2 separate regions of the Homo sapiens genome follow, and region 2 is linked to region 1. A link means that fine-mapping ties the variant in region 1 to the expression of a gene that starts in the linked region. Tissue or cell type: spleen. Region 1 holds a variant in brackets; the other region holds the start of a gene. All regions are shown on one strand. Distances are from middle to middle. Region 1 has its middle 69 kb from the start of C13orf42. Region 2 holds the start of C13orf42 (chromosome 13 open reading frame 42).

What was found. PIP is the estimated chance that this variant, and not a neighbour inherited with it, causes the effect.
Region 2: C13orf42 starts here. The variant in region 1 is fine-mapped to the expression of C13orf42 in spleen (GTEx, PIP above 0.99).

Annotation. Positions count from the first base shown.
Region 1 is chr13:51,034,303-51,050,923 of GRCh38, forward strand. It overlaps the pseudogene GUCY1B2. Among named protein-coding and RNA genes, the nearest start is that of C13orf42, 69 kb to the right of the region's middle. The variant C/T (reference allele first, on the strand shown) is at 9,249.
Region 2 is chr13:51,103,658-51,120,278 of GRCh38, forward strand. C13orf42 (chromosome 13 open reading frame 42) reads right to left here and starts at 7,617. Exons shown (of 4, transcript NM_001351589.3): 1 at 7,139-7,617. The coding sequence starts at 7,552. RefSeq lists enhancers at 6,875-8,074, 8,759-9,958.

The DNA of each region.
Region 1 (16,621 bases):
TCGGTAAAATGCCAATAACCACATTGATGTCATGGGCCCTTGGGAGGAGCCCCGTGCAGCCTGGCACTGAGTAGGTGCTTGTGAAACATAAGTCTCCTTGACAAATACTTCCTCAAAGTCGAGAAGGGGATGCAGAGATGCTGTACCCGCTTAGCTGCTGAAGCCAGTGCCCAGAACAAGCTTCACTCTGGGTGGGGAGGGCGCGACCCTCCACGAACACTGCCAACACCTCCCACATCTTTAAATGTAACAGTCAGTCTCTAACAAGAATACAAGGATGCCTCTGAGAAATAACTAATACACAATGAAAAAACTATGCCTTCAAGGCTACAGGATCCTGATTTACCAAAAAGATGATACCAAATACTTGCAGTGTCTTTCCCTTTCTCTCCTGACCTCCCTGTGAGGCCCAGTGTTCCTGTTCCATTCTCCATAAAGATTTCTCTGAATTCTCTCTTCCTAAGTGTTGCATTTTTTTTTCTTCCTAATTCATGGTAATTCTGGAGAGAAGCAACCCGATCCTACACGTTTTCTGTGCTAAACACAGCATAGGTGCCTGATGAACACCTGGAGGTAGATTTGCGGCATTAGTTGGAGCTGCTGCCCACCTCCCCGCTCCCCAGTCTACACTGTTGGAATAGACAGTAAGCAAGTGTCCACTTTATGGGAAAGACAGCAAACATTTTAAAAGAATGTTTTATAGTTCTGACAACACACATTAATTACTGTTCTGTTACTCAATGTTTGCCCAGCTCTTATAAGGTAGCTAACCTTATTATCATGTCCTTTTTACAGCTGAGCCTGTTGGGGCTGAGTCATCTTTGTGAATTGACTGCAGTCACATAGAGTTGCAGAGGCCAGATTTGTTGAAGAGGCTCCAACTCTAAGTTTAGCACTTTTTATACCACATCCCCCAGCCTCTGAAGCAGCAATGAGAGAAGCAAGGAGTCTCCCCAAGGGAAGCGCTGCTTATGCGTTGGCATCATTGACACAGGAGACAGGGCATCCATCCATGCTGCTGGTCTGGAGATCCTGTGAGAAACACCCTCTTATTTACAATGGGGCTGTGACACATGTAAGTCCTGGGGGCTGGGGCAAATGTCTGTAATGCCCAGGTTTATGGAAGGCCTGAAGAGCTCACCATCACCAGTATCTGTGGTTGCATCCTTGAAAAACTCTGTGATGCTCTGGCTGGATTTGGAATTCACAGCAAGGGACATTCCAGGTCTCATGAGCTATCCAGGGCTAAATCCTACAGAGGACAGACGAAGGAGGTCTGGGCACTCTCCAGCCCCTGCTTGCTTCCTAGGATGGTCTGAAGAGCAGTTTCCCTACAGCTCATAGTCCACAGCCAGACCATGGGGCAGATAATTGTTCTGTAATCTGAGCAGGATAGAGTCCCCACTGAATTGGTCTAGTTTTGTCAGAGATGAGTTGTACATATTTTCCAAGATGAGTTATACATATTTTCCAAAAATTGATTAGTCGGATCTCAATCTAGACGAAGCTTGGGATGGTAGAGAAGCCAGTGGTAATGGCCTGTGTTAATTGCCTCCGTTGGCTTCTTTGCTTGTGGGTGCATCCTGGCCGGCCTCAGGCAGGCTTGTCTATACACTGGTATAAATTCAAGGACCACCTGCTAACCCCTAGGGGATCTGAGACAAATTCTACCAAGTTCCTTTCCAGTGCTTGAGTCTCTGGGAGGGGGACTGCTAAAAGGTAAACAGACAGATGGGAAATTGTCCTTCTGCTCTCCTGCTTCCATCCCTCTGTTACCTCTGATCTAGCTTATTCAGACTAAGAAAAAACAGCTGTGCTGTGCATCCTGGAGGCTGGAGCTCTGAGCAGGTGCATCCTGTTACCTGCCAGGAAAAGCAGGGGTCCCAGCGGCCCCCCTTCTCCCAAGAACCTCTGCCAGGAGGACTGGGCTGCGTGTAAGCCAAGCAAAGTTATATTCAAGTAAGAGTGGCAGCTTTGGGTAAAAGACTGCCTGTTTGACTTTCAAATCTTTAAACTTAAAAAATCCATGAAGCTGTTTGTTCCAGGCTCTGGTTATTTTGTTTGTGGATGCCCAGCTCTGTTAAAAGGAAAGGACATCTGGCTGAGAGATGAACTGTTTCCCAAACAAGGATCTTGGGTTTGAGTGTGGTGTTTTCCACCTGTAATGGGTTTGGAGCTTCTTCTAGAATTCTTAGTTGAGAATGCTTGTCCAGCAGGGAATAAAGGCCGCTTTTTTAAAAAAATCAGCACCTGTTTTAGTCTTTTATACAGTTTCACATCAGTGTATTTAAGATTCCAAGAACCCGCTAAGTCATAGGGGATCCAAGATATACAGGAAATGGTTAGAAACTGCAAGAAAGAACTAAACTAACTTAGGTGCCTTAAAATGTTTTTCTGATAGTGCAGGGGAGACTTTATACTATGCTTAGTATTCTTTAATGTAAGAAAGAAGGGAAAACAAGGAAATAATCATCTATCTGCCTACTTGTGCAAAATTAAACACCAGAAGGATAAACCTGGATCTATTGAGATTGGTTACCTACAGGACATTGGTAGGGAATGGGGTGGAAAGATTAGAAAAATTGTGGAGTTGGGGAAAATGACATTTTTCTGAGCATAACTTTTTGAACAGTTCTGGTTTGGGGAGTCATGTTAATGTTTCATATGCTTAAAATAAATAAAATATAAGATCAACAAGGATAGAGAAAACCCCTAAGATGGAGTACAAACAGAAACAAATTCACAGAACAGCATTTCAACAGAACAGTTTTGAATAACATAATCACCCAGGAAAAAAATTAACCCAGTAATATTTGAACATAGTATTTACACTACTGTGTCTTCAGGCCAAAAACAAAAAGAACTTTAAACAAATATTTTACTGTAGTTAGTAGGCTTCCTTTTCACAGCAGTGTGGGTTAGCAATTCTGAAACTATGTTCTGAACAAGTAAATATATTGTGGATAGTGGGAGCCAGGTTTTTCCCTATCTGAGAATGAAGTTACAATTATGGAAAGGGGAGGAATAGAATGAACCCTGTGCCTCTGGATTAGAAAATCTAACATAATAAGACAATGAAATCTATCATGGTTTTAGATATATCTATATTTTATATATCTATATCTATATCTATATTTTATATATCTATATCTATATCTATATTTTATATATCTATATCTATATTTTATATATCTATATCTATATATAGATAGATATATAGATAGATATAGATTATATCTATATATATTATATTATATCTATATATTATATATAGATATATATTATATATATAGATATATATATAGAGAGAGAAAGATGGATGTATGTGTGTGTATGTGTGTGTGTGTGTGTGTGTGTGTGTGTGTGTATATGACATGTATTTTCCAGCACTGTCCACTAAGAGGGCCTAAAAGCAGTGATATCCCAGTAGCAGTGGGGTTGCCTAATGTCTAGATCTTAGTTTTTAAATGCTCTTCTCCTGTAAAAGGAATCAGGGCCTTGGAGAAATGGCAGATTCCAGGGCTGGGGCAGGGAAAGGATGAGATCAGCCTATAACATCTTGTTATGCAAGAAGGTAAAGAAGTGATCAAAGAATGATGGGGACATGTCAAAAGGACACAGGGGCCAGTTTAGGGTGGCTCTCACTGGCTAACTCTTGCACAATTTGAGCATCAAAATAAATAATAAAAGGAAAGGATTACAGCCTGTTTTTAAAAAATAAGAATCACAAATCTACATTGATATAAGTAAATAAATACATGGGGGAGAGGGGGAAATTCTTCCTTACAGAAACTCAATGAATAAATACAAAAGGAATAATATTCTTAGAAAATCACCATTTGACTTCCATCATAAGTATCAATTCAGACAAGAATCACAAATAAATACTAAAACTATGAAAGAGGGAGTTTGAGAAATGACAAGATATTTGCATAATCTGAAAGTATCTCCTCACAAGGTACTAATTACAAAGGGAAAATGTAACTTTACAGTGGAGAAAGCTGGCAAATTCTACGTAAATCAAGTGATCAAAGTTAGCCTCACTAATAATAGGACAGATCAATGAATGGAATATGCCTCCTGATATGATAAACTGGGAAGGAAAAAGATCACGTCTGTGATCTTCCTGCCAGGAAAGCATAACCTGAATTATATCATGAGGAATATCAGATAATCCTCAATTGAGGGACATTTTGCAAAATGTCTGACCAGAACTTTCCAAAAATACCAATTTTATAAAACATAAAGAGACTCAGAAACTGTTCCAAGCCAAAGAATACTGAAGAGACACGATAAGTGACATGATTCAGGATTTTCTTTTGTTCTAAAGGACATCACTGGGTCAACTGGAAAACTCTCAATAAGGTCTATAGATTAGATAATAGCACTATATCTATGTTCATTTCCTGAGTTTGATTGTTGTACTGTAGTTATTTAAGAGAATTTTTAAGGACAAGAAGGCATCACATTTGCAATATACTAACAATTTCAAGAAAAAAAGTATAAATCTAGATATAAAGAGAAGGATAGACACTATATGGTAAAATGTCAACATTTGGGGAATATGGATAAATACTACATGGGAATTCTTTGTACTATTCTTGTAAGCCTTTTGCAAGTTTGAAATTATGTCAAAGTAAAAAAGATTCTGTTGATTGCTCTGAAAAGACCATAGGGAATCTTACATAATAAGACCGTAAAGACCATGTTTATCCATGGCCAGCTGAAATACAGCTGCAGCCCAGGCCTCTGTAATGTTATGAATTTTGTTAGTTATAATCAGGGCATTATCAGTACATTTTTAATGTCTTTATCTTGTTAGAGACTAATACTGAAATATTTATGGATGAAATTGTGAGAAACCTGGTAATTGCTTTAAAACACTCCAGAAAAAATAAAACTAGAAAAAGAGTGGAGGAATCAGATAGATGAAATAAGACTGGCAAAATATTGTTAATTAGTGAAGCTGGGTGGAGGGTATGTGGGCTTCTGTACACAATTCTCTCTACTTTTGCGTATGTATTAAAACATTTTTTTTAAATAAATAAAGGAGTTGAGTTTTTTTTGGTTGGTTGTTTTTTTTTTTGTTTGGTTGGGTTTTTTTCGTTTGTTTTTTTGTTTGTTTGTTCGGTTTTTTGAGACAGGGTCTCACTCTGTTGCCCAGGCTGGAGTGCAGTGGTGCTATCACGGCTCACGCAGCTTCAACCTCCCCAGGCTCAGGTGATCCTCCTGCCTCAGCCTCCTAAGTAGCTGGGACTACAGGTGTGTGCCATCACGCCTGGTTAATTTTTGTATTTTTTGTAGAGATGGGGGTTTTGCCATGTTGTCCAGGCTGGTCTTAAACTCCTGGGCTCAAGTGATCCACCCACCTTGACCTCCCAAAGTGCTGGGATTACAACACCCACCCAAGACTTTTTTTCCAGGAGGAAAATGATGGTCACAAAGCTTCTATGCTTGATTCCCCAGGTGTGGAGACCTCTAACAAGCTTTTACATTGGAGTGTTGCATGAACTCAAACTTTCTGACTTAACAAGCATGGGTCTTCTTTGTCACTGGGAAACATTTGCTTCTTGCTGGGTTTCAGCTCAAGGTACTGGAAAGAGTAGAGTTGGGCTGTCCAGGGCTGGGGGACAGAGAGCGCCTGTTGAAGCCCCAGTGAGGCTGGCAGGGACACCATAGCCACCAAAGCAGAGCCTCCTGGACAAACAGCCCACTCAGGGCCAGACTTGCAAGACCCCTGCCCACCTCCCGTCACCCAAGTCACAGGCAACAAGAGCTATTCCTCATGGCACTCTTCCTGAGTCACCCAGCAAAACATGTGCTCTTCAACAGGAAAGAGAAGTACATGCTCTACATTTGACAAAGTTTTCCGTTGAAAATGGGTAATTTTTCCCCCAAAGCGTTGGTATCCAAAGGATTACTCTTCAGATACCTGAAAAGAGCCAGAATCTCACATACTCTTTTTCTCCAATGATATCACTAATGTCAGGCATGAGTTAGTTTATGGGGAAATATTTTGGAGTAGGAGAAAGAGTAGTCTAAGAAAAGGAAAGAAACATCTGCCCATGTCCATGCTGTAGTTTGCAAGGAGGAAGAAGACTCTAAATTAGGAGGGTTGGGTTTCAGAAGTAGTCGTAAGTTTATACAGGCACAGAGAAAAAATAAACTGGAAGTCGATTAAGGCAGCTCAGGAAGGTGGTGCTCTGCAGGGATGAAGCAATTCCGCTGAAGCCTGGTAGAGAAGAAGCCTCCTGGTTCCCGTCAAACCTTGGAACAGAGTAGTCAGCCCTACCAGGGCCACAGCAGGGGGCCAGGGGTCTATCTGGTGGCAAGCAGGGGTGAGGGACAGGGCGAGGTACCTTGTTGTGTACCCACTCGGTGTCAGGCATTTTGCTCACCTTATTTGATTTCTTCTGTAGGACAGATGAAACCCCCTGGGTTGTTGTCCTACAGAAGAAATCAAATAAGGTGAGCAAAACGTCACAGGTATCATTGCTGCATTACCAGGGGAACATTTACCCCAGGTTACATTATCAGGAGCCGGTGTAGCCAGGGGGCTCACCCAGGTCCGTCTGATTCCAAAGCCCTTGCTCTAGACATTGTCGACTTCCCCTCCAGTCTGTGGGATTAAGCATCAGCCTTGGAATCAGCAGACCTGAATTCAAGTCTCCATTCGTGGCTGGTTGCACAGCCTGGGTTACTTGTCCCATCCTCAGAGGAGAATAGTGAAGAGCAAACGTTATAATGCCTGATTTCAAGACGTTGTCAATTTTGTGTTGTTCTTATTTTTAAAGATGTGAGTGCAGAGAGGCTTGCTGGCATTTGCTGATAGCTAACTGTTGAAACACATTTTACTGTGGGTGTCTTCGCAAGCAAAGTCTAGACGGACACAGCTGTGCCAAATGGCTGTTGTGTGTTGTTTTGAATTTTGTCGCTTCAGATCACTAATAACCCACTTACACACTAAGTAGGCACTTATTCATATACAGAACAATTCCTTATGCAATGCTCAACCTGCCATCTGGTCCCCTCCTGAATTATGCTAATTGGAAAGCACAGAGCTATGCAGTGGCAGAGCGGTCTGGAAAAGTCCCAGCAATTGCTTCAAGGTAGGGAAATTGCATTCTGAAGCCCACATGGAAAGCAAAGCCCTCACTAGTGGTGACTAAGCACACTTTTTCCCTTGTCAAAGGGAGGATTTTCAACTGACCAGTATATTTTGTTAGACAGTAAAATGTCCTTCCTGTAGCCTTTCCTTTGGATGGGTCTTGCTCTCTCAGACTCATGGGAGTTGGAGACATACAGAATCACGACGGGCTTCCTGGGGCTGTCCTGATTCCACATCTCATACATGTGTTCACTCGATTTTGCATCCCAACTTCTTGTTTGAAAAATGCATTCACCATACTCATTTACTCTTTCAGATAGATATAGGCCAATAGATGTTATGGAAATAAACTACAAGAAGAAAAGATTCCTGACATTCAAAGCTAGGCAGAGAGAAACCACAGTGATGTACGTTGGCTTTCGGTGGAAAGGTGATGTGGGCCAGCCCACACATTGGTCTGTAGACTGGCTGCTGCCTCTACACATGTTGGTTGGGTTGGGAATGTGACGGCAGTGGGGCAGGTATGTGATGGCATCTCACTGCTGGAGGTACTGCCACACCGTTTGATGTACATGAGCACAGACAGCCACAAAAATGGACTGGGGTGATATGATATATACAGAGTATTTCTTTCTGGAGATATACAAGCTGATTCAAGTTCTTATATTAGTCCACTAGGGCCACCACGACAAAATGCCATAGATGGGGTGGCTTAAACAACAGATATTTATTTTCTCAGAGTTCTGGAGGTCGGAAGTCTGAGATCAAGGTGATAACATGATTACTTGACTTATAGAGGGTCACCCTCTCACCATGTTCCCATGTGACAGGGAGTGAGAGAGCCAGTGCTCTGGTATCTCTCCTATAAGAGCTCCAATCCTATCAAGAGGGCCCCACCCTCATGAGTTCATCTCAACCTAATTATTTCCCAAAGGCCCCATTTCCAAATATGAATTTGGGGCATGGGGGCACAATTCAGTCCAGAGCAGTTCTTAGGTTAAAAGATATTTTTAGAATCTTGAAAAAGATCTGCATCCACCCTTGAGAGCATGAAATGACCAACTTTTCCTGTGAAGGGCAGATAGTAAATAATAAATGTTTTCGGCTTTGTAGGTCATATGGTCTCTGCGCAGCTACTCAGCCCTGCCACTGTAACACAAAAGCAGCCATGGACGATGTATAAACAAAGGGGCACGGCTGTGTTCCAATAAAACGTGACTTACACAAACAGGCAAGGGCCCAGATCTGGCCCATAAGCTGTATGTAGTTTGCTGACCACTAATCAGAGAGCTCAGAACATAATTTTTTTTTTTTTGAGACAGAGCCTTGCTCTGTTGCCCAGGCTGGAGTGCAGTGGCACGATCTTGGCTCACTGCAGCCTCCGCCTCCCAGGTTCAAGTGATTCTCCTGCCTAAGCCTCCTAAATAGCTGGGATTACAGGGGCAGGCCACCACGCCTGGCTAATTTTTTTTTTTTTTTTTTTTTTTTTTTTTTTGCATTTTTAGTAGAGATGGGGTTTTACCATGTTGCCCAGGCTGGTTTTGAACTCCTGACCTCAAGTGATCCACCCACCTCAGTCTCCCAAAGTGCTGGGATTACAGGCGTGAGCCACCGCACCTGGCCCATAATTTATTTTATTTTATTTTATTATTTTTAAGTTCCAAGGTACATGTGCAGGATGTGCAGGTTTGTTACATACATAAATGTGTGTCATGGTGCTTTGCTGCACAGATCAACCCATCACCTAGGTATTAAGCCCAGCACGCGTGAGCTAATTTTCCTAATGCTCTCCTTCCCCCCGACCCCCACAACAGGCCCCAGTGTGTGTTGTTCCCCTCCCTGTGTACATGTGGAACATAATTTTTTACCACAGCCATTTGAAGTGAACAGCAAAGCCTGTCTTCTTATAAGGGACAGTATCTAGAGGTACAAAACATAGAAATACCCCCATCCTTCCTTCAGATTCAACATTTGGCTGACATTTACCAAACACCCAGTATGTGCCATGCATGTTGCTAAGTGCCTTACATTTGTTATTTGATTTAATTCATTCCTTCCCACAACCCTGTAAGGTATTATTCCTTTTGCAGGAGATCAACTCTCAGTGAAATTCTAGCCCAAGGTCACACAGCTGGTGTGA[C/T]GGAAAAGAATCCACCCTCCATTCTCATTCTGGAATAACAACGAGATGTTCTTTCGCAGAGGGCTCAGACCAAATCAAGACTACACGATACAGCCACTACGTCCTTCTGCTGCTGGGATCCCTTGGAATAAAATCAAGAAAAGACTAAAGGTGGGCTTAATTTCACTACCCATTGTAAGCTTTTTTGCCGTTTTATTTCCTAAGCTCTGTCAAAACTCCAGATTTTCAGCTCAAAAGTAGTCATCTCTCATTACAGAATTTCCACCTAATGATTTGTATTCTTCCTGTGGAAGGAAGGTTACTAGATGCTCCTCTTACTTAGCTAGAAGAAAGGAGGTAATTGCAAACCACTGGACTTGCTCGTGGACCTCCTGCCCTCACTAGGATCACAGATGTGCAGAATTGTCAGCCACAAGGGCAGCACCTAGGCTTTGCCTATGTGGGGTGGACATATTAGGATCAAGAGGGGATCTGTCTGTCTGGTTTGCAAAAGCATATTTAACATCGTAATCGCATACTTTTAAAAAAAATTAAAGTGATGCTTAAGAAAACAAAACAGGTAATCTCTTTGGCAGGTGTGTCAAGCATAAAGGCTGACAGGTGACCCTCTGGGGTGGCTGTGCTGCTGCCACCTGTTGAACAAAAAGGCCATAGCTGGGGAGCAGAGCTGAGTCGAGAACCCAGGTCTCCAGGCCTGCAGCCCCTGGGAGCAGCACAGTGCTGTAAAGAGGACACATCCCGCTCTCAGACTCGAGCGCAGAAAGCTCGATGCTGTGTGCTTTTTGATAACCCAGCCCCACAGAAACCTCCCCTGGTGTTAGCTGCTGGAGAGACAAAAGGGCCTGGGAGTCCCCCCAAGACAGGCTGGACAGGATAGGGGTGAGGTTTGCAGGTATCACTGACACTTCCCAGTTCCTGGGCCAGCTTTGGCCTAGAATCTCTCTCTGTAAGCTTCTTTGGAGAGCGGAGCTGGTTGGTGGATTCGGGGAGAGGCCCAGCCGTGATTCTTGGGAAGCCACGTGAGCCCTGTCTGCCAGCTGCCTGTGTCCTCCCTCTAAGTGCTGCCGTGGTGGCAGGCTGGGAACTGGCTTTAGGAAGCATCCGGGAGGTGTTGCTGCTCTTGGCGCCTGAGTTCCAGGAGCTGAAGGAGCAAATGACTGTTTCACTCCTTGTGCCTTATTTCCAGCCTCAGACACAACCTTGGTTCTATCAAAAGATGCAGGTGGGAAGTGACCAGGGGCTAACATACATCTGGTTGGAAGTTGTTTTAACAACCAGTTGGGACACCAGATTCCTCCTAGCTATGATCACCATCACCTGCCAGGCCTCGTTGGCAACTCTGGCCCCTGCTTGTCTCTGTGGCTCCAAGAGAGCAACATGATGAGATGAGACAGCAGGTGGCCCAGAGTGGACAGGGGAAGCAGGTGGCCCAGAGTGGGCAGGGGAAGCAGGTGACCACCTGTTACCAGAGAGGACTCTGAGCACCACACACATCCAGCTTCCTCAGCCTCAATGACTTCCCCCTCCCAGCTTGGCAGAGACTTTGGGCCTCTCCTGGATATGGATCCCTGGAAGGTCTTCTGCATCCAGGAGATGACCAGGAACATGAGAAGAGATGTAGATATCAGTCACAGCGCCATGTGAAAGCCATGGGAAAAGCCCTCTCATCTGTCAGATCCAGTTGCCTGCAAGTAAAGCTGGCACTATCTTTTTAATCATCAGATAATTTTTCTGAAATCCAAAGGGAAGGGAAATAAGCTCAATACCTCACACGACACGGGCACTTTACACATCACTGCTGCGCTCTGGAGAAGCTGCCTGTCCCTGCGGGCTTAGCATTAGCTAGCTGCCCTGGTGTGTTCTCAGGCACGCCTGCTGGGCTGATGACTGTGATACCTGCTACTGGCTTAAACCTATATCATTTCACAAATTGTTCCTGAGAATGGCAAGCCAATTTGCTAGGCCCTCAGAGGCACCATGAAACCAACTCAAAACCATGGCCCCTGCTGCCAGACCCTCTGCAGGCTGCATAAGAGCCAGCTTGCACACTCCCAGGGACTGGGCCTAGCCTGACACTTCCAACAGGGCTATACCCGGTGCCAGGTGACAAGCATGAGGCCTGATGCAGCGTCTGAGTGAGATCATCCTTAAATGCCATCTCACACTCTCACAGTGACCCAAGGCAGCACCGCCTATGAGGAATGGGTGAAGGAAGTTCAACGGGAAGGGAAAGAGGAACCTCATCAAAGATCCTGGGTACAGAGGGGGGCTTCGGCTTCCTGCATAGATCCCTGGAGCCTGGGACGGTGGAGGCTGCCTGCCCCTCCCTCCCCTCAGGCCTGCCCTGGCTCATTGTGTACTCAGTGCTGGTGAGAAGGAAGGATAAAGAAAGCGAGGGTGTATTGGGTTGAATAGTGTGCCCCCAAATTCATGTCCACCCAGAACCTCAGACTGTGACCTTATTTGAAAAGAGAGCAGATGTAGCTAGTTAAAATAAGGTGAGGACATAAGGGATTAGGGTGGGCCCTAAATCCAAAGGCTGCTGTCAATATGAGAAGGCCACGTGAACACACAGGGAAGAAGGCCTGTGGAGATGGGGACAGAGATTGGGGAGATGTGTCTACAGGCTAAGCGGTGCCAGCAACTGCCAGAAGTTGGGAGAGAAGCAAGAGACAAGTTATCCCTAGAGCTTCCAGGGGAATGAACCCAGCCAACACCTTGGCTTTAGACTTCTGGCCTCCAGAACTGGGAGAGAATTGATGTTTGTTGTTTGAAGCCACCTGGTTGTTGGTACTTTGTTACAGCAGCCCAGGAAACACAAAGGGGAGGGAAGGAAGAAAGAAGAAAGGAAGGGAAGGAGGGAGGGAGGGAGTGAGGGAAAGGAGGGAATGAGGGAAGAAGGGAGGGAGGGAATGTTTTTTGAAAGCCTATTATATGCCAGATACCACATATGATATTTTCACATATATTTTCTCATTTAATCCTCCAAATAACTCTGAAGATTAGATCTTGTTCAACCAATGAGAAAACTGTGACTATTTAGGTCATTTGTCCTCGGTCATTAAACTAGAAAGAGGCAGAGCTAATTTCTTTTTTTTTTTTCTTGTTTTTTTTTTTTTTTTTTTGTCCTGTACCTTGTCCCCTCTGGGCCTGGGGAGTGAGCAGATTAACAAGATAAAAAAAATCCAGTGCTAATACATCCACAGGAAAAACCATCCTGGGAGGACACGTACATTGTCAGTGGGACCATCCACACATGGTCCCCCTCCTATGACCCTGTCAATGGCATTTTCATGTCCAGGCAGATGGGAAAATATGCGATGGAGAGCAGATCGGGGAAGGGCCCTCAGCACACTGCAGAGCACCCCACGTCCATTTCCAGGTAAGCACGAGTGTAGGTGGCATAGGCGGATTCTCAATGTTGTTCCTCCTGACACCCAGAGATAATCATAGCAGACCATTCTAAAGGTATTGCAACACCTGTAAAGCCAACATCGAAGCCAAACATGATGGCAGTGGTGCAGACGGTGCTGCTCATCATTTTTGTCTGTAAGAAGCCTAAGGCCACTCAAATGGAAAGGGTCATACCTGAGCCCTGTACTGGGTTAGAGTGCCCCTTAAAATTCATGTCTACCAGGAACTTGTGAATGTGACATTGTTTGGAAATTGGGTAATCAAGTTAAAATGATGTCATTTAGGATGGACCCTAAATCCAATATGCTTGATGTCCTAATGAGAAGATGGAAATTTAGACACAGAGACACAAATACAGGGAGAAGACAGCCACGTGAAGACAGAAGCAGAGGCTGGAGTTATGCCGCCACTAGCCAAGGAAAGCCTGGGGCCACCCGAAGTTGGAAGAGGGAAAGAATTTTTCCTGAGAGCCTTCAGAGAGAGCACGGCCCTGCCAGCAACCTGATTTTGGACTTCTGGTCCCCTGAACCACAGAGAACGAATTTCTGTAGTTTTAAGCCACCCAGGTTGTGATACAGTCGGTCCTCATTATTTGAGGATTTCATATTCACAAATTTGGCTACTTATTTATCTGTAGGCCCGAAATCAATACTCACAGAGCTATCAAGGTCATTCACAGACACAGAATTTCCACCGGCCAACATGAATGCTTCTAGCCAAGGTAGAACAAGGCTGTGCTCTATGTTCTTATTTTAGTTTGAACTATAACCAAGTGTCCTTCTTGCAGTCTATTTAGTGTCATCTTTTTCACATTTTTCTGCTTTTCTGTTGGTGATTTTGCTGTTTAGAATGACCCCCAAATGTAGGCTGAAGTGCCATCTAGTGTCCCTAAGCACAAGAAGACTGTCACATCCTTCCAGAGAACAGGCAGTGTTAGATTAGCCTCCTTCAGGCATGAGTTACAGTACAGTTGGCCAGCAGTTCAATGTGAATGAATCAACTATGTATATTAAATACGTATTTTTTTCACAGAAGCACACATGAAACAAAGTTATGCATTGATTGGTTGGCAAAAATCTTGTGACCAGAGACTTTCAGGAAACTAACCCTGTATTTCCCCTAGGAACAATGGTGCAGTATTCACTAATTCAGGATTGCAGCAGCTTTATAGACTATAACCAATGCAAATAATGAGAATCAACTGGGTTTTGTTACAGCAGCTCTAAGAAAGCAAAACAAGTTCTTTCATACTTACCCAGAATGTTGCAGGCCTCTTGGATGAGCTTAATGGTGATGACGTCATCATACATTGTGTAGGTCATGAAGGCATCTTGTACTTCTGCAGAAGTTCTGGAGGATAAATCGAGGTGCAGTGAATGCTCATCAGCTGGAGCTTTGCCCCAGGAATATATCCACTGACCCAGCAAGATATAATGTAACAATAATCTTCTTGATCATAAGGAATGTGAGACACTGGAGTGTTTGGGTGTCAACTCCTCCAAGAAGCCTTCCCTGGACCTCAGTTTGAGCCCGGAGACCCCTTCTCAAGTACCCAGGATAGGCTATGCATTTCCTCAACTTATATAAAGATTGTTGGTCTTACCCACTAGCTGGTCTCCTTGAGGATGAGCATTGTGACCTGTTTTTATCTTTGAACCCCCAGCAAGTGGCACTGTACTGAGCACATGTTCAGAACTTAATATATGGTAGTAAACTGGAACTCAATGGTCATAGAGTCTTGTTCTCTGAATGGTAGAGCAGCTGCTTGAGTTTCTCACTGTTTTGCAGTGTAGTTGGCTATGTTGCAGGAGTTATGGATGGACTTTAGTCTTCAACAGATAGCCAAGCCTGCTGAAAAGAGGCTTAGCCTGGGAGTCTGAGACTTGCACCCTTGGCTTGGCCCTTATGTGAGTCATCAAACTGTAGTTGGCAACTGAGTTAACAAATGGGGGAAGGAGGTTGGTCAGGGAATGCTTCTCTAAGAAAGGGAGATTTTGCTGAGACTGAAGGATGGAAAGGCAAAGAAGAGCCTTCTGGACAGAGAGAACAGGCTTCTAGGCAGCAGAGAACATGTTTGAAGAACAGAGAGGGGTCAGAGCATTCAAGCTTATCCAGAGCACACCATAGAATCTTGACACTGCGAGAAGTATGGAATTTTCTACATATCCAATTTTCTAAATGTCCAATTTCTTACTGCACGCTATTTCTGACTGCTGGTTTTCCAGTTTCTTCTTGAATGCTTCCAGTGACAACAAGCTCATTCCTTTGCAAGGCAGCACATTCCACTTACCAACTGCTCTCTTTGATGGAAACGTCTTTCTTATGTTCAAATGAAACCCCCTTCTGGGCCCTCATAATACCTCCTATTTATTAAGCATGTGCTTTTGGCCCAAGAGATGACCAATTTATTACTTATCATTCCTCGTACTGTTGAGAAGGCTGATGCTCAGAGGGATTAAATGTCTTGCTATGGTCACCGGTTGACAAGAGAAGGATCTGGGCTCTGAACTTCAAAGCCCACACCACTCCTGTACTGTGCTGCTGGGAATTTACTCACTGGCCTTAGTTCTACCCTTTAGGAAAATGCAGACTGGGCTGGTCCCTCCTCTGGATACCTAACCTTCTAATGTTTGAGGATCCTTATTCATCACTAAATTTAACTATCTCTTTATCATCTTTCTGGACTTCATCTTCCTCTCTGTAAAATGTGGCAATTATTATTACCTGCCCTTCCTATCTGCCAGGAGTGTTGGTAAGGATAAAACAGGATAACAAATCTGAAAGAGCTTGGGGAAAATGAGAACCACCATGCAGATCCTAGGAGAGCTGTGATGACAATGAGAACAAAGGGGCTGCGTAGTGAGTAGGAGGTGACCAGGGCTGGGGTTTAGGAGACTTTGGTTCCAAGCTTATACCTTACACAAATAAGCTCTGAGGGAAAACCACTTTCCCCCTCTGGGCCTTGATTTCTTTATCCGTAAAATAGAGGAGGTACTGGGCAAGATTTGTGTTTCTCCATCTTTTTTAACCTCTCTGCTACACACACATCCACTGGGGATTCTCAGACAGCCCCAGAAACGCTTGTGCACGCAGTTGAGGATCTAGGACTCTAGCTTCTAGGACTAGAAGCTGCTTGAATTCTCCTTCACCTGTAAGAGTTCCTGTTTTGGCCCATGCCTATACAGTGCTTTCTAAGCATCTTCGGAGGCAGCTGTTCAGAGAAACCGGCTGTAGGCCTGCTCGGGCGAGGAGTGCTGTACACCACCACTGCTGCCTAAGTGGGGCACTCTCCACCATGTTGGAGTTGCCTCTTACTCGCCCCCAGGGGCCCACAAGTCTCTGTGAAAACATGTGCCCTCCTTCTGCACCTATAAGCAAAACAGAAACACGTGGACGTGACCCCAGTTTAAACTTGACACATTGTCATAATGTGTTCTGAAGACCTTAGAAAGGGTTAAGTGACCTCCAGGACCGTCAGAAATGTAACAAACTCTGTGGCGCTCCCTGGCCCTCTGATGGGACCACCCATTCACCAATCTCTGGATCTGGCAGCCTGTTCTTTCCTGTAGGCTGAACTGATCATATTTTAGTGTCAAATATTTATTTGGGTTTGTATATATGTTGCACGTTGCTGGGATGCCAGACGTGCCCAGACTGTTATGATTATACAGGGATTTTCAGCCTTGTTTATTGATCTCCACGATCCTGCATATAACATTTCCCACAGAGCCAGTGCACACTTGCATATGTAGTCATTCAAGCTGCTTTAGTAAAACAGTATGTTCACCAAGAATTTTTTTTAAATAAATAAACCAATTGATATCTTCCAATGAGATGACAGAGCCTCTCATATGCAGAGGAGAAAGAGAGAAAAATGACTATTGGAAAGCATTTTGAAGAGATCGAGTTGGAGATGCAAGAAATGTGGGAAATGAAGTAAGAGTTAGATGTTTCCAGCT
Region 2 (16,621 bases), 69 kb after region 1:
GCCACTGCATACCAGCGCGGGCCACAGTGCAAGACTCTGTCTCAAAAAAAAGAAAGAAAGGAAGCTCTGACACAAGCAACAACCCAGACAAGCCTTGAAGACGTTGTGCTAAGTGCCATAAGCCAGACACAGAAGAATGAATATGATTCCACTTATGTCAGGTACTAAAATGGGCAAATTCACAGAGACAGAAAGTAGAACAGAGACTACCATGGACTGGGGAAAGGGGGAAATGAGGAGTTCGTGTTCGATGGGTGCAGTTTCTGTTTGGAATGAAAAAGTTGTGGAGATGGATGGTAGTGATCACTACACAACATTGTGAATGTACTTAATGCCACTGCATTGTACGCTTTAAAATAGTTAAAATGGTAATATTAAAATATTTTACTTTAAAAGACTGTTTCATATTTAAAGAAATAATTGTCAAACCTTTTATAAAAACATTCTCCTGATTTCTAAATGAGGTACTTTGAGAGGGTCCACGATCTTTTAAGGAATTCGTATTCTAGGGTACTACTAACAATACTTTAATAAAGTGTCCTAAAAATACATTAATTAGGGCTTAATAATCCTTTGGATGAATTATTATACACTTATATAAATGATAATTTGGAAAAGCTCATGGGAGACTAGTGTGAAAGACCCTGGTTATTATCTGGCTATTAACATTTTGAAGGATATCTAGTAGTATGCACTTTTACTTTTAAAAAAATTGATACAAAGTCATTCAAAGAAAAGCATTTAGTACATGGAGCGTGGTGGCTCACACCCGTAATCCCAGCACTCTGGGAGGCTGAGGTGGGCAGATTGCCTGAGTCCAGGAGTTTGAGAAAAGTATTTAATTTCTTAAGAATTTGTTAACTGTAATAGACTTCATTACCCATAATCTGAAGACACTAAAAGGCACTCATTTCAGGAACCATGAAGTGCTGTGTGAAAATGGTAAAAGTTATGTTACATTTATTGTACCACACTAAAATAAAGCTTAAATTCGTAATGAAAATGTTTCCAAATTAGATGGTGGTGAAGATTACACAATACTGAATCGACTAAAAACCACTGACTTGTACACTGTGAAAGAGTGAGTTTTATGTATGTGAATTAAAGCTATTATATTAAAAAAAAAAAAAAAGCCAAGCTAAGAAAAGTGATGTTTATGAGTAGGTGAGAAAAGAGAGAAGTAAAATAACCCAAGGGCTCGTCATAGCAGGAGAAGGCTGCAGCTTGAAGAAATTAACAGGAACAAGCAAATGAGACAGGCACACACAGAGGCTGATGCCAGTCACATCCCATACGTGACCCTGGAACAAACTCCACAGGGAGCAATCGGCTGTCTAACATGCTAGGATGCAGGGTGGAGTGGAAATAGCAAAAAACACAGCAGGACAACTTGTTACTTTTCACAGACATTTTTCTCTCCTGGGGTGAACCAATTCTTCGGAGGATTTTGACAAAGGCCATTGGGAAGGGTGTGTGATGTATCCATACCTCTGGCATTTGAATTCTTCCCTGGGCTCAGAAGGGGCTGGCAGAAGCTACTGAGCTCAGCTAAGCTGCCAATCCATAGTCTCTCACTAAGATGCAGTTCAGGACCACACCCTGTGTGGTTACAGCTGGGGCTCTGAGAAATCACCATAGGAATTCTGGTCTTGCTCTCTCGCAAGACCGACTACCCCCATGAGGACAAGGACTTTGTCTTCTTCACCAGCATCTAGAACAGCTCCTGACACATAGTATGTGCTCAATCGATATGTGTTAAGGGACAAGTGAGTGATATATTAATAAACTGTTACTAAAATATTATTAAGGGCATCACTAACCACATCACACAAGACTCCCTAAGTCAAGTGCCATATGAGATATTTTGAAATTCAAAGCCAGGGGGAAAATCTCACTCCCCTAAGCAATGGGTATGGTTCTTCTCAGATCATCAGAATTTTGAAACAAGCCCAGCTCTTTTTATCTTAGCTTCCAGCAAGGACAGAGCCAAATCTAAGGCTCATCTATGGCAGCTGAATTAGCTTCTATGATCTGCATATTATTTTGAGTGGTCTTGATTTTCTATGATTTTTTTTCTCTCCTGATTTTCCAATTTCTGGTGCTACTTAACAATTCTGTATGCTCTTGAATCTTGTATGTTATACAAGATCAAAATACGTTTTCCAGTCAAAAGATGCTGTAGATATATTGACAGTATGAGTTTCGACATGATACAGAAGCTAATTCAGCTACACAGAAGCTAATTCAGCTGCCATAGATTCTTCATCTCAGATACTTTGTAGAATGAGCTGGGAGATATGAAAGTATCTTGTTGAAAAATGATTTCAGGACATAATACCTACCCATCATGAAGTTCCGATTGTAGCTGTGCTTGCACTGTTTCCTCAGTTCTTTTCCTAGTGTGTACTGAGAAGTGCAAAAGTAGATGATATACAAACTCAATATTTCAATGCTACAGAGACCTAGAGTAAAACTGGAATCACAGGTAGCCATGTGAAAAGAAGTCAAGATGGAGATAAATTCCATCCACGGATTGTGGAAAGAAAACAATTTAAAGCATACCTTCTGGCCACTTCCTTTCAGCCAGGTTTCTCTTGAAGAAAAGAAGCCCAGTCTCTCCCACTTTGGGAGGGCTTCACCCTACACAGAATCCACGTGCAGTATGACGCAGCTGCCTCCCTAATGACTCTCCCTGGCCCAGGTGTGCAGGATAAAACAGCCTTTGCAGTACACATCCTAAGGTGCACACTCTTGCATCTTCTAGGTTATACAATATCAAAACATGTTTTCCAGTCAAAGTGGATACATTGACAAGGGTGTGAGTTCTGGCACGATACAGATTGGGATCAAATCCTGGCTTTCTCTTCGTCAGGAGCATGGCCTTACACAAATCTCTTAACGCCCCCAAGCCCCAGTTTTCCCCTTTATAGAATGAGGCTAATAGCCAACAGGTCAGGTTTGGAGGGTGATTAGAAGTCAGGAATACAGCTGATTGCATGGGAGCAGGGGAAGTGGGTGTAGAGGAGAACATCATTGCTCCTCCTGACTGGCAAGAAACACCCAAGGTGCCCAGAGCAGGAGGAGGCTTGTCCTGTTGGTTCAGAGACTCTACATTCCTTGACAAGACACACTTCAAACATGCCATCCTTCTGCCACACACATTATGCCCTGGGTTAGAAATTCTAACCTTTTAGCACCTAAACAATGAGTCCCAAACTGCAGCTCATTCCCAACACTGACACAAAAACCCTCACGTACGGATTTTTTTTGTTGTTTTGATTTTAAAATGTTGCAAAAAGTGTATTTCATTCATTCATTTTTATAATGACCTATTCTGAGGGAGGAGTACATTGCCACAGGGCCTGGCAGAGACTCCCACCATGCAGGGTCCCAGGAGGGGCTCCCAGACCCACCCGAGGCTCACCTCGCTTCTAGTGTGTCCTGACTTCCTCCTCCCATCGACCCACATGGGTGGTCTTCTAGGCTCTGGGTATCTCCAGGGGGCTGGGGTAACAGACCATTTGGTACCCTGGCCTTGGATGCCATTCACATGTCAATGGGACCTGTTAGAAAGCCTCATTCCAGAGCATGAAAGCCATATGTCTTGATCCAGTAATGGCTTGTGAAATCAAGTTACTGTGTCATGACAATTTTTTTAAAAAAAAATTAGAATAGCATAGAATGCTTTGGAAAACATCAGAGTGCTAAGCAAGGAACAGGAGTAAGTCTATTTCATAAAACTTTTGTTTCGTTTGTGTGTTTGGGTAAACTGGGTCAATATCCAAAATATGTTTCTTACTGCAATGGATTCTAATCAAAATAGTTTAAAAGCCACTATCTTACCACAAAAGAGGGACAGACAAGGGAACTTAGGTCCTGTGGCCAGGCCAGGGGCTTGCATCCGGATGGAGGGAGGGAGGGCAGCAGAAAGGGCCTGCCATGGTGCCCTGGTGTCACAGAGAACACTGCTCCCTCCCTATATGGAGGCCGGCTCTCCCCTCTGTATGGCACAAAAGACATCAGACTTTTAAAGGCTATAAAGCATCTACAAATGATTGATAGTATTCACTTTTATGCTCTGGAGATAGAAAAATGAGAAAGATACTGTTTCAGCTTCAAGCTCACCAAGTTCACTGCAGTCCACCAGGGGAGACGCACATTTTAACAAACCACAGTAGGATGTGATGAAAGCTAAAATAGAGGTGTGTTCAGACCAATGCCGGAGAAGAGAAGAGGCTAATTCTATAGAGGGGTATATTCATTTCCTAGGGCCACTGTAACAAAGCACCACAAACTGGGTAGCTTCTGTAGCTTAGAGCTATAGATCTCACAGTTCTGGAGGCCAGAAGCTGTCCGCAGGGCCATGCTCCCTCTGAAGGTGCTGGTGAAGGGTCTGTTCCAGGCCTTTCTCCTGGCTTCTGGTAGGTCCTTGGCTTTTGTCCGTGGCATTCTCCCTGCATCTCTGTGTCCTCACATGGCCATCTTCTTATGAAAACACCAGTCCTATGGGATTAGGGGCCCACCCTACTCCAGCATGACCTCATCGTAACTAATTACATCTGCAATCACCTAGTTTCTAACTGAGGTCACTATCTGTGGTACTGGGGGTTAGGACTTCCACATATACATTTTGAGGAGATACAGTTCAACTCATAGTAGGTAGTCAGGGGAAAGAATGGTGTTTTCCCTAAACCTGGAATGTCAGCAGAGCTTTCTCCCAAAGCATGGGGTAACGGCATTCCAGGGCAAAGGATTCCTTCTGGTCCCCTGTCCCGGCAATGCACAGAGACCCAGGCAGCCATGGGCCACCCCACCAGCCATGAAGCCTGAACCCATCATTTCACAGGCAGGCCCAGCATACAGCTGTTTCTGTCAGAGCCATGGGGAAAGACAGCAGCTGAAAAGACGGCTAAGAGCCTCCTGTATCCAACATTTCAGAGTCAGTGAACGCTGGAGTAAGTACCTGGTATGTGCTAGGAACAATTACGTGCAGGAGCCTACTCCTCACATTATCATTTCCATTACTACCTGACAGAAAAACAGACCCAGAGAGGTGAACTTCCCTTAACAAAGGCACACAGCTGGTAAATAGCAGAACTAAAATTCAAATCTTGGTCTGATTGACTTCAGTGTCCTTTCAAAACTCTTTCCTGATTGCGCTGTGGTGAGAGGCATCTCCGAAGGAGATCCCTACGTTATATCAGGCCCATGTGCCTCTGCACAGCCATTCAAAGGGCTAGAACTGGTCATTCTGCTTCTATTCCCTCCATCTTCAGATAGCTCAACAAGGAAGGGAGGTAGGTCCTATAAGAGAGAGCTCCATTTGCAGAGAAATGTAGTACCTAGAGGAAATCTAGCCAGTGCCTACTACCCCAGAATATCCAAGCTGGAAAGGAGTCCAGAAACCACTGCAACCCCTTCTGTCATCAGAGGTGGCTGGCCCACAGATCTACAGCTGGCTGGCCACAGAGTCAGCACCAGGACTCGTGACTAGGACCCTTTTTTATGGGCCCCCAACACTGACATACTTTTAGAGTTAAAATGATTATTTAAACTGCTCCCACCTGGTATAACATGCAGACAGTTGAAACCAATTGGGTTAGGCCAAGCCCTAGAGATTTGATAGTGGGCCAGTCAGTCATTCAACATTAATGGAGTTTGCACGGCCTACAGGACACTCTGGGGAGAAAGCAAGGAAGCGGGAGACAGGCCTGCTTCAAACATCTCATCTGGTCATCAGGAAAATGACTGATGGAAGTATACAACAAAACAGCCTTAACCTACGGGCATTAGAAATAAATAAAAGCTGGCTGAGTTTGGCGACTCATACCTGTAACCCCAGCAACTTTGGGAGACCAAGGCGGGAGGACTGCTTGAGGTCAGGAGTTTGAGACCAGCCTGAGCAACAAAGCAAGACTCCCATCTCTACAAAAAAAAAAAATTTTAATTAGCCGCGTGTGGTGGCAGGTGCCTGTAGTCCCAGCTACTTGGGAAGCTGAGGTGGCAGGATCACTTGAGTCCAGGAGGTTGAGGTTGCAGTGAGCTATGATCATGCCACTGCACTCCAGCCTGAGCAACAGAGGAGACTCTGTCTCTAAATAAATACAAGTCTGAGGAAATAAAGGAAAGAGTAACTGAATGAATTGCCGGCTCATAATTAAAATTAGGTGACCTAGCACCTAGAGGTGGGTCACTGAGCCTCGGTTTTCCCTTCTGTGATACTGAAGGAGTTCCTCCCCACCTACTGTACTGGCTTTATTGTGACGCTCAAGAAAAGTTGGTATATACAAAACACTGCAATAAGCATAAACAAAGAGATAAATGCAAATTATTTCTTTCACTCATTTCATGCTTGTGACTGTCTGGAGACCTCCAGTGCCCAAAGCCATCCGGGAATCTCCCAAGAGACACAGACTCTCTCCGTGTCTATGCCTGAGCCACCACATGCCTGGTCTGAGGTACAGATGGAGGAATTTTCCAGTTGTTTGGCTTGCGTGGGGCTAAGCACCTCAATATTTGAAAACATCTAGTCATGTGATGATTTCACTTTTCACCAGGATTTTTAGATGTGACAACAATAATTTTTTAAAAACCAACAATTTGTTGAAAAATGATTTGCTGTCATCCAAATGCCATGCAAGCATTATCTCACCTATAACACTGGGAAGGAATTGATAGATGTGCAATGCAAATATGGTGCCGCCTGACACCAAAACCCATGTCTTCCCCACCGAGCTGCTCTGTGGACACCACTACCTGCTCCTTTTTGCTTCCTGGGTATTAAAAATAAACATGGATCAAGAAACTACCAATCAGGCACTATGCTTATTACCTGGGTGACAAAATAATCTGTACACCAAACCCTTGTGACACACAGTTTACCTATATAACAAACCTGCATGTGTACCCCTGAACCTAAAATAAAGTTAATAATAAATAAATGAGTAATAAACATGGGCTTAGCCACCCTTCCCCAGGCTGGGGATATGGCCGCATAAAGCATCTGAGGACTATTGCGCCGCGGCTCAGAATGTGTCAGATTAATTAAGCCATGCAGAGGTAGGAAGAAGCTTTCAAACAGTTGCCCAAGGCTCTCAGAAAAACCCTCATCTAAATTGTACTGCTCAGCAGCACTTACCTTTATTTCTTTGGGAGTAGACCGGACAGGAGTCTTTTTCCCTCCCTTGGAGGATTTGGAGGAGGTTGAGGAAATCCCCTGGGTGCGGTGGGGCTTCAGATCACTGAAGCTGCTGAGATATTTTTTGCGCAAGGCCAGCAGCTCCTGCAGGTACTGCAGGCAGTCCTGGGTGCGCGAATACATCCACGCCCGGTCCTCCTCCTGCCGCAGGTAGTACAGGCTGGTGTCCATGCTACTGGTGCTTTTGTACTTCTTTAAGGACTCGCTGAATTTCTCCCCGTGGTCCCCGACCACATACATGGAACTGCTTCGAATCAGCTTCACTGCGGGGCTGGCTCCTTCGTAGAAGGGGCTCTCGGCCGCCGTCTTTCTCTGTGGGCTGGAGTTAAAGATGGAGTGGATCTTTCTGAACATAGTGCTCGATTTCTTTCTGTGGGTACCTTCCAGCTGCCTGTGCTGCCGCCACTTGATCTAGATGCGGGGAGAGAAGCCGACATCCAGGCCTCGCACCATCTGCCTTCCAGGAGGCCTCTGATCTCTAGGATCCCAGGGAGCACCGGCTTGATCAGGTGGGTAACCTGCACATCTCCCATGGGGGATGTTTACATCCTATAACCAAGAGGCCATAAACAACCCGAAGATAGAAGGTGGCGCACTGTGAACTTAAAAATGAGTGCCCTGGCTGGCTTTATGAAGCATTGAGTGCAAATACCTTCAGTGCTCTCCCGTGGAAGGCCCCAGCTGGATGAAGAAAGTGGGACAGAGCTTTGCCTGCTCAGTTATTTTCTTTCCTTTTCACTTTCCATCGCTGGCCATGGTCTCACTCAGTTTGAGTTGATCTTGGTGTGAATTTTTACCTTTCCACCTGGGCTGAGCTGACTCCGGTTCTGAATTCTCTGAATCCAAAATGAAATTCTACTTAGCAGGGACAGCCCTTACCCAAAAATCATGTGTTGCTCAGGGTAAAATCTAGTCCCCCGAGATGGGCCAGGGTGGACACACCAGGGCGTTGACAGGAGCTCGCAGATCCCCCCGATAAGCTGGGCTCTGAGCAGGCATCTGAGCGTCCTGGAAGAGCCTCGCCCTGCGGTAATGGACCTCACAGCCGTTACCGGATAGCAGCCCATTGTGGAGGCAGGAGGAGGATTCAGATATCCGGACCACGACTTTTTGCACAGAAGCATCAGTGAGCTGAAGGGTGGCCACATTTGTGGGGCAGACACTTTCTTTAGCCCGAGCACATTTTTAACTTAGACTAGTTAACATCAGACATAAACTGTTTTTTCAAGAGGGCTGTAGGAATCTATTAGAATTCCAGAGATGTTCTCTGTAGCATTTTTCTCAGGCAGATGCTAAACATTGTTATTTTGTTCATTCTTCTATGCAGTCTATTTCTCTCCTAGACTACAGTCTGAGAGTACAAGCCTGCACCAGTCTCTAGGTCAGGCATTTTCTTAAGCTATGAGCTAAGAGAAAGTATGAGCCCCCAGAAATTGTATGTAAAGCATTACTGAATGAATGTATTAGCATGGTTTATTTTTGCTGTTTGCTCTGTGTGTGTGTGGGGTGTGTGTGTGTTTTAAGAGAAAGAAAAGATTCACGGTTTTATCAGATATTCAGAGGTCTCTGATGCAAATAAAAACATTTTTAAATGTTTCTATCCTGCATCAGAACAATAACGATACTTTTCTTTGTATGACTGTAAAATATCATTATAAATGTTTTCCTGTTGAGGGCATCCTCTGCCTGTGGCATTCTAAGCACTGGGGTAGCACAGCCCCTCACATGTGGAGCATTTCAGCTTCACAGTTGTAGCATGCTTTAGGGATGATAAAGCATCTCCACACATACTAACTTATTTAATATTTGCAGCTTCCTTGGAAGAGAAGCATTATTTCCATTATCATCTTTAGTGGTCATCAATTCACAGATGAAGAAGGGGCGCGCTGGAGAGGTTATGAGACTTGTCTGTGGTCTCAATCAGGCGAGTGCAGAACCAGTCCTCAGACCCAATTGTCCAGCTTCCAGCCCATTATGCTGGTCCCAATGCCCCCTCACTGCAATGAACTCATAAAGTCACCGAGTTCCCAGGTATCCAGGGGAAGTCTCTCTCCAAACCACTTCCCTACCTTGACTCATGCATAATATCAAAGCACCCGGGATGGGTAAGTGCTGACTGAACTTCTTCTCAGAGGTAGCCACAGGCTATGACTACACAGCCTTTCTCAGTAGCTTGTGCCTGTGGGTTTACAATTACGCTTATTCTACATGGATTTAGAGAGTTTAAATCAATAAAAATGAAGTCTACCTCCATATCCAGAATGCCACAAGCGACCTAACCTCTTGATCACAAAGGGAATAAAACTGTCTTCTACATTCTCCTTTCTTCACTCCTACCTCGTGCTGGATTCTTCCCAAGGGTCAGACCTAGAAAGAAAATTGAGATAAAATTCTACTGACATCAACCTGCAGAACATTTCGTGAACACGAAATGGACAGGACATTAAGCAGCAGCCATGACCCAGCAGCTGACTGCTGTCAGTCACCTCCGACGCCAGTCCTGTCCTGAAGCCGCCTCCCTCCTGGAGCTCCTACTGAGTTGAGTGAGGGGAAAGAATGCTTTCTCCCTACAAAATACTCGTCACCTCTGCTGGTGGAGGAAATTCATCCAGAATAGTGACTGCCTTTAACGTATCTTACTTAGATTTTCTCACAGCCTCAGCTATAAGAAACGGGTGTGAAATCACCTTGTGGTTTTCCAAAGTGTATTTTGTGTGTGTGTGTGTGTGTGTGTGTGTACGTGTGTTTGTGTTTCAAGTAGAGACAGGGTCTTGCTATGTTGCCCAGGCTGGTCTTGAACTCCTGGCCTCAGCAATCCTCCTGCCTCGGCCTCCAAAAGTGCCTGGATTACAGGAGTGAGCAACCATACCTAGCCACAAAGTGTATCACAAAGAAACTACAAGTGCCCATCAAACCCCAAATCAGTCCCCCCAGGCTTGACTCTTTTTACACATTGTGGAATGCGGACAAACATCTAAGCAGGGAGAGAGAAGGGCCTGCATCCTCTCCCCCAGCCTAGCCCCTCCACATCAGCCCCACTGCCTATGTGCTTCTCACTGGGCTCAGACCAGATTTCCTCTTCCTGGTGGTGTCAGAGCCTTGAGGCTTGGCCAGAGAATCTGCATAAAGTGACTTGTGTAACAAAACTTGCTTTATTCCAGAATTTCTCAAATGTAAAGTGCAGAACCCCAGAGTGATGGCTGAGCAGTCCAGAGGATTTGCCATGTAGCAGTGCTGGGCTGGGGCAGCCACAGGCAGCAGGTGTAGAAGAGCTGACTGAGCCTCTGCCTGCTCCTAGATGAGCCTGGTCTTGTGGTGTTGCTCATGACTGGAAGGGCAGGCCAGGATGAGAATGAGAGTATGGGCCTTACTCAGAGTTTGAATCACAGGTCAACTACCTACCAGCTTAAGAAAGTTATTTAAACCTCTGAACTCTGGATCTCTCACCTCCAAAACTAGATACCACCTATTTCATAGGGCTGGTGTAATGATTAAATGAGATACTATATCCTTTGCCCTACATCTTCTCATTCCTCCCTGCACCCCCACTCTGCCTCTGGTAAATACCATTTTATTCTCTATCTCTGTGTATTTGACTTTTTTTTCTCTTTTTTAAGATTCCACATATAGTGAGATCGTACAGAATTTTTATTTCTGGGTCTGGCTTATTTCACTTATCATAATGTCCTCCAGGTTCACTTGTGGTGAGTGGCAGAATCTTCTTTTTTAAAGCTAAATAATATTCTACTACAGATAGATGATAGATAGATAGATAGATAGATAGATAGATAGAGATAGACAGACAGACAGACAGACAGACAGACAGACAGACAGACAGACAGCTTCTTGATCCATTCATCCATCAGTGAACACTTTGGTTGTTTCCGTATCTTGGCTATTGTGAGTAATGCTGCAATGTGCAGATATGTAGGATGAACAAGTCTAGGACTCTAACGTACAACATGAGGAGTACATCAAATAATAATGTGTTGTATTTGAGATTTCTGCCAAAAGAATAGGTTTTAGGTGTTCTTGTCAAAAAAGGAGGGAGATGGATAACCATGTGGGATGACAGATATGTTCATTTGCTTCACTGTAGTAACCATATCACTTTGTATATCAAAAGATCATGTCATATACCTTAAATAAATACAATTAAAAAACAACAAAAATAAATGAGATAATAGAGAGCACTTAATATGCATATTTGCTCAATCATAGTAATTATTACTTATAGGAATATAAAAATATGATTACTACTACTTCTACTTCACAGTTCCCAGCATATAGTTGCCAAGCTATTATTCCAGGTAAATATTTGGAATCCAATTATAATTCAAGGGGCCTTTCATCCTGCAATATTTGTAGAGATCACAGGCTCAAATGGGCCATCCTTAATAATATTCAGCTAGAAACTGCTAGTTTTACCCACTATCCTGAAGAGTGCTAAGTTTCCCTAAGATGTTCATTGGTGCCCCCTATCGTGACTAGCACACCTGCTTACGGGGCATTTGACCAGGCACCCTGTCCCTTTCAGGCATGGATTCAGGTGAGCACCCCATCATTTTCCTCCCTACAGTTGGGGACGTTGCCTCGTATCATGGTGTAACCGGGGATAGTCTGTGGCACACACCTCTCAAGGTCATGGTTCCTTTAATCCCACCAGCCTGCAACTGTACTTCATCTAGAGTCCCAAATCAAAGAAAACAATCAGCACCTTGGTCCCTAATTGCACATCTAGAAATCCCCTCGACCACTCCCCTGACAGGAAGGTGACTCTGAGTCAGTCCTTCCAAGAGGCAGGGAGGTGGGGGTGATGGGGAACGAAGGAAGAGCACAGAAGAAGAAGGGGACGCTGAGAAAAGGAAGAGATCAAATAAATGTGTTGAATATTGAATGAAGGGTAAGATTACAAAGTTCGACAACGTGTATCCCATGTCACGAAGTCCAAGTCCATTTGCACAGTGTATTGGAACATTTAGCTTTCTGGTTGCACTATGAATTCTGAGGAAAGAATTTTCCCTGGAGACCAGCTTCCCTGGCTCAGACAGCAAGGTCCTGTGCTTTAGATCTTTGACAGATGAAGCACAGTTCCCTGGGGAAAGAGCAGCTCCAAATCTCCCTGGGCTCGGCCCTCCACATATGAAGACCAAAAGCAGAATAACACATCTCTACACCATCCCTTCTTACTTTAACATGCTTGGAAACCTCTAATAAAAAAAAAAAAAGTCCTTGTAAGCAAACATTAGATCCTCTGAGGTTTACAAGACTGAAAATGTACTGGTGCTTGAGTACACAAAGGGCTGGTGGCGGGACTATATCCTCCTTTAGAAGGCGTGGCCCTAATTTGGGAGCATCGTGTACATTGCTGCCCATCAGGCAGAAGGGGCACGTCTGACAATGGGAGGTAGGGTAACCCAGCTAAGCCAAGCTTGGAGATGAGTAATGAGAGGCTGGGTTGGAGAAAGTTGGAAGGGAAGGGTGAAGGTGGCAACAGGCAGTTAAAGGAGGGTCTTAAAGGCCAGTTCAACAACTTTGGATTTAATTCTACAAGGTGCCTGTTATCAGACCTCTGGGAGCCCATAAGACATTTTCACTCAATTTAGAAAAAGTGCTCTCTCCAGGTGAAGGCCAGGTAAGCAGTCCCCACTGGCTCCCTTGGCAGGTGCCTGGGTACAGTGTACAACCCACACAACAGTATATGGTGACCCTGGCTGGTTAAAAACTTAGAACAGAAGATGATGTGGCAAATGGAATTGTGAGAAAATTCCATTTAGGAAACTTAAGTAGGAGCTCCATGTGATTCAAGAAAGGCTAATTATTTGTTTATCTATTACTATGTACAAACCATTCCAAGACTTCCCTGGCTTAAAATAATGATCATTATATTTGCTCACAAATCTGCAATTTAGCTGGGCTTCTGTTGGATGTGCCAGTGGCACTTATGTGGCTGCATTCAGTGGTGGGTTGTCTGGGTCTAGGCACAAATGGGGAGCCTCTCCCTCTCCACATGGTCTCTCCAGTGAGGTGGCCGGAATACTTAAATGGATGCTCAGGGCATCCAACAGTTCAAAGGTGGACACGGCCAAGCCTTCAGGCTGAAACTAGGAACTAGCACCCTGGTTTTCCTGCCCAATTCTATTGATTTAGTCAAATCACAGGACCAACTCAGATTAAGGGGAGGGGACTACACAAGGGTGTGAGTACTAGAAGAATGGCTCATTGGGGCCACAGGTATAGTAGACTGCCACATTTCCTTAGGAAGCTAAGATGGCCATCCAGGTGGAAGTAAGGAGGACGTCATTGGACAGCAGCCAGTGAACAGATTTTTCTAAGAATAAGCTCCAAATTATTTGTAGTCAGCTTTGAGAATACTATATATCCTAGTCAGTTTATTTTTCTAAATGTATTCAGCAAAGACTAATAGCAAAATAGATTATAGTGCCCAAAATTGAGTTTCATAAATCATTGTAGGAATAGATCTCATTTTCCAAAAATGTAAAAGGAAAGTGAATAATTAGGAGTGGATTATATAATACCTTGGAAAGACAAATTCAGGGACTGAGCCTTATCTTTAATCATTTTAAAGTGATATACTGCAGCATTTTATTGGAACTTTTAGAAAAAAGATATAGTCTTCTCATGAATGCTTATGCTTCCTTATCAAACGTTTACATGACAATCAACAGAAAAATTGAGTGTGAATTTCCAAACCCAAGGTAGAAGGCTGAGACTGATGGTACTTTTGGGGTTGGAGTAAATAAAATATCTGCGGTCCAGTATTTTTTTCACATTCTCCTGCACCTACCTCCTACTTACCACTCTTCCCAGACCTTCCTCTCCCCTCCTATTTTTTTCTTTTTTCTCTAATTTAAGGCTATCATATTAGAGTATCAGTTTGGCTTCCATAACTGAAATAGGAATATACATATTTATTTTTCTCTTGTGTAACAGTGCAGAGGAAGCTAATCCAGGGGAGATGTCTCTGCTCCACGTGAACACTCAGGGACCCAGGCTCTTTCCATGTCATTGCTCCCTCACTCCCTAAGTAGGTTGCTCTTGCCTGCATGGTCAAAAGTGGCTCAGAAGAAAGTATCCTTGTTTCAGCCAATAGAAAAATGGGAAGGAAAAGGCTTTGCACATTCCTTTCACTTGTAATCACCTCCCGTTGACCAGAATCTACTCACAAGGTACCCAGAGCTGCATGGGGAGCTAAGAAATGTGGTCTTTTGTGGCATGATCTTGTGTCCAGTTCCAACTTCTGTTGCTATAGCAGCTCTGGGGTCAGAGGGAGGCAAGCAACAATCTCTGATAGATGGCTCAGTTTCATTTGTGGAGTTAGGAAGGAGAAGGGAAATAAGATGAAGAAGACATTTTCTTCATCTGGACCTTGAGTAGTGACATTGAGGGAAAAACAACTTTCTAGCTTTTCACAAGATCAAAGTCTTCCTATTTATCCCCTGACAGGGAACTGGTCTGACTGCCTCCTCCACAACAGTCCTCCAGAAGACACCTGGAGAGGGGCACGACAGGCCTCCTACCTCACGCTTCCTCACATCTTCACCTCCTCAATCGATGGAAGGACACTGATTGCTTTGTGGGGCTCCAAGTGTTGGGCCACCAGGCATTTGCTGTTGGATTAGCCTCAGTGAGTCTTCCCTAGAATCAGGAGTCAGTCAACACTGGGGCAGAGAGTGAAGCTGCCCTGATGGGGGGCTTTCAAGGTGGTGGTTTTTTTTACACAGGCAGCCTCGGCTATCTGCTTTCATCGATGAGAAGTGGTGACTCTTCTTCAGGCAGCAGCAAGAACTCAGAACATATTTAGGTGAAACAATCCCTGCACATAGAGTGACCATACATCCAGTTTGTCTACTACTTGTATATGGCATAATTATGAATAGCACCCCAAATAGATGATCTTGTAGCCTAGGGTGCTAGTGACACAGCCAACCTGGCCTTATTTGCATGCTTGGGCATACAGTATGCCCAGGGGTATAGTATGCCCAGGAATACAGCATGCCTAGGTGTGTGGCATGCCCAAGGGTACAGTATGCCCAGGTGTACTGTGTGCCCAAGTGTATGGCATGCTCTGGTGTATGGTGTGCCCAGGCATACAGCATGCCCTGGTGTACAGTGTGCCCAGGTGTACGGCATGCCCAAGAGTACAGTATGCCCAGGTCTACAGTGTGCTCAGGCATATGGCATGCCCTGGTGTATGGTGTGCCCAGGTGTATGGCATGCCCTGGTGTATGGTGTGCCCAGGCGTATGGCATGCCCAGGTGTACAGTATGCCTGGGTGTACAGTATGCCCAGGTGTACAGTATCCCCAGGTGTATGGCACGCCCTGTGGCTGCAAGCATGGAGTGAGCTGCAGATCCTCAAGTCATCAAGAGGAAATGAGAGGTTTCAGAACTGGTTCAGTCAATAACACCTGGGTGCACTGGGAACAGAGTGTTTGTTTGGAATTTAGTAACCTTCACTAAACCTGGTGAATTCACAGGTGATATCAGTGGGTGTGAATGGCTCAAAAAGAGTCCTCGTTTGTCTGATCAGCTTGTCTCTAGCAGAGCCAGAAAAGCATTGAATGCTTTCCTGCTGCCATGGCGTACAGAGTGAGAGGGGAAATCGCCAAGAGGTGGAAGCAACCCAAATGCCCATCAACAGATGCATAGATAACCAAAGGTGGTCTATACCTGCCATGAAATAGCACCCAGCCTTAAAAGGGAAGGAAATTCTGACACACCCTACAGCATGGATAAGCCTTGAAGACATGATGCGACGTGAAATAAGACAGACACAAAAAGACAAATACTGTATGATTTCACTTATATGAGGTGCCCAGAGTAATGAAATTCATAGAGACAGAAAGAATGGTGGTTGCCAAGGGCAGAGGAGAGGAGAAAATGGGAAGTTAGTGCTTGATCTGGACAGAGTTTCAGTTTGGGAAGATGAAAAGAGTTCTGGAGGCGGATGGTGGTGGCTGCACAGTGTGAATGTACTTAACGCCACTAAATTGTACATTTAAAAATGGCTAAAATGATAAATTTAAAAACAAATAGATTCCCAAGGCCCTCTAGAGGAACTCCCGACTCAAAGAGATCGGAGAATCTGGGAATTTTTCCTTTTAAAAAAAAAAGAAAGCATCCCAGAGGATTATTACCATCAAGGAAGTTTAGGAAAGTATTGAAGTCCGCGCTGATTTATAGGCACTCAATAAATGGTCACTCAATAATAGTTGCCATTGTTACTAATAATGTAAATGGTTTCATCTGTAGAGGTTCCACTTGAGAATTACAGTAATAATCATGGTTAATATTTGCAAGCACTGACTACGTATGCTGGGCTTTTACATGTGTCATCTCACTGAATCCTATAACTTTACCTATCAGGTATGATTATTGTCCCCACCACAGAGATGGGGAC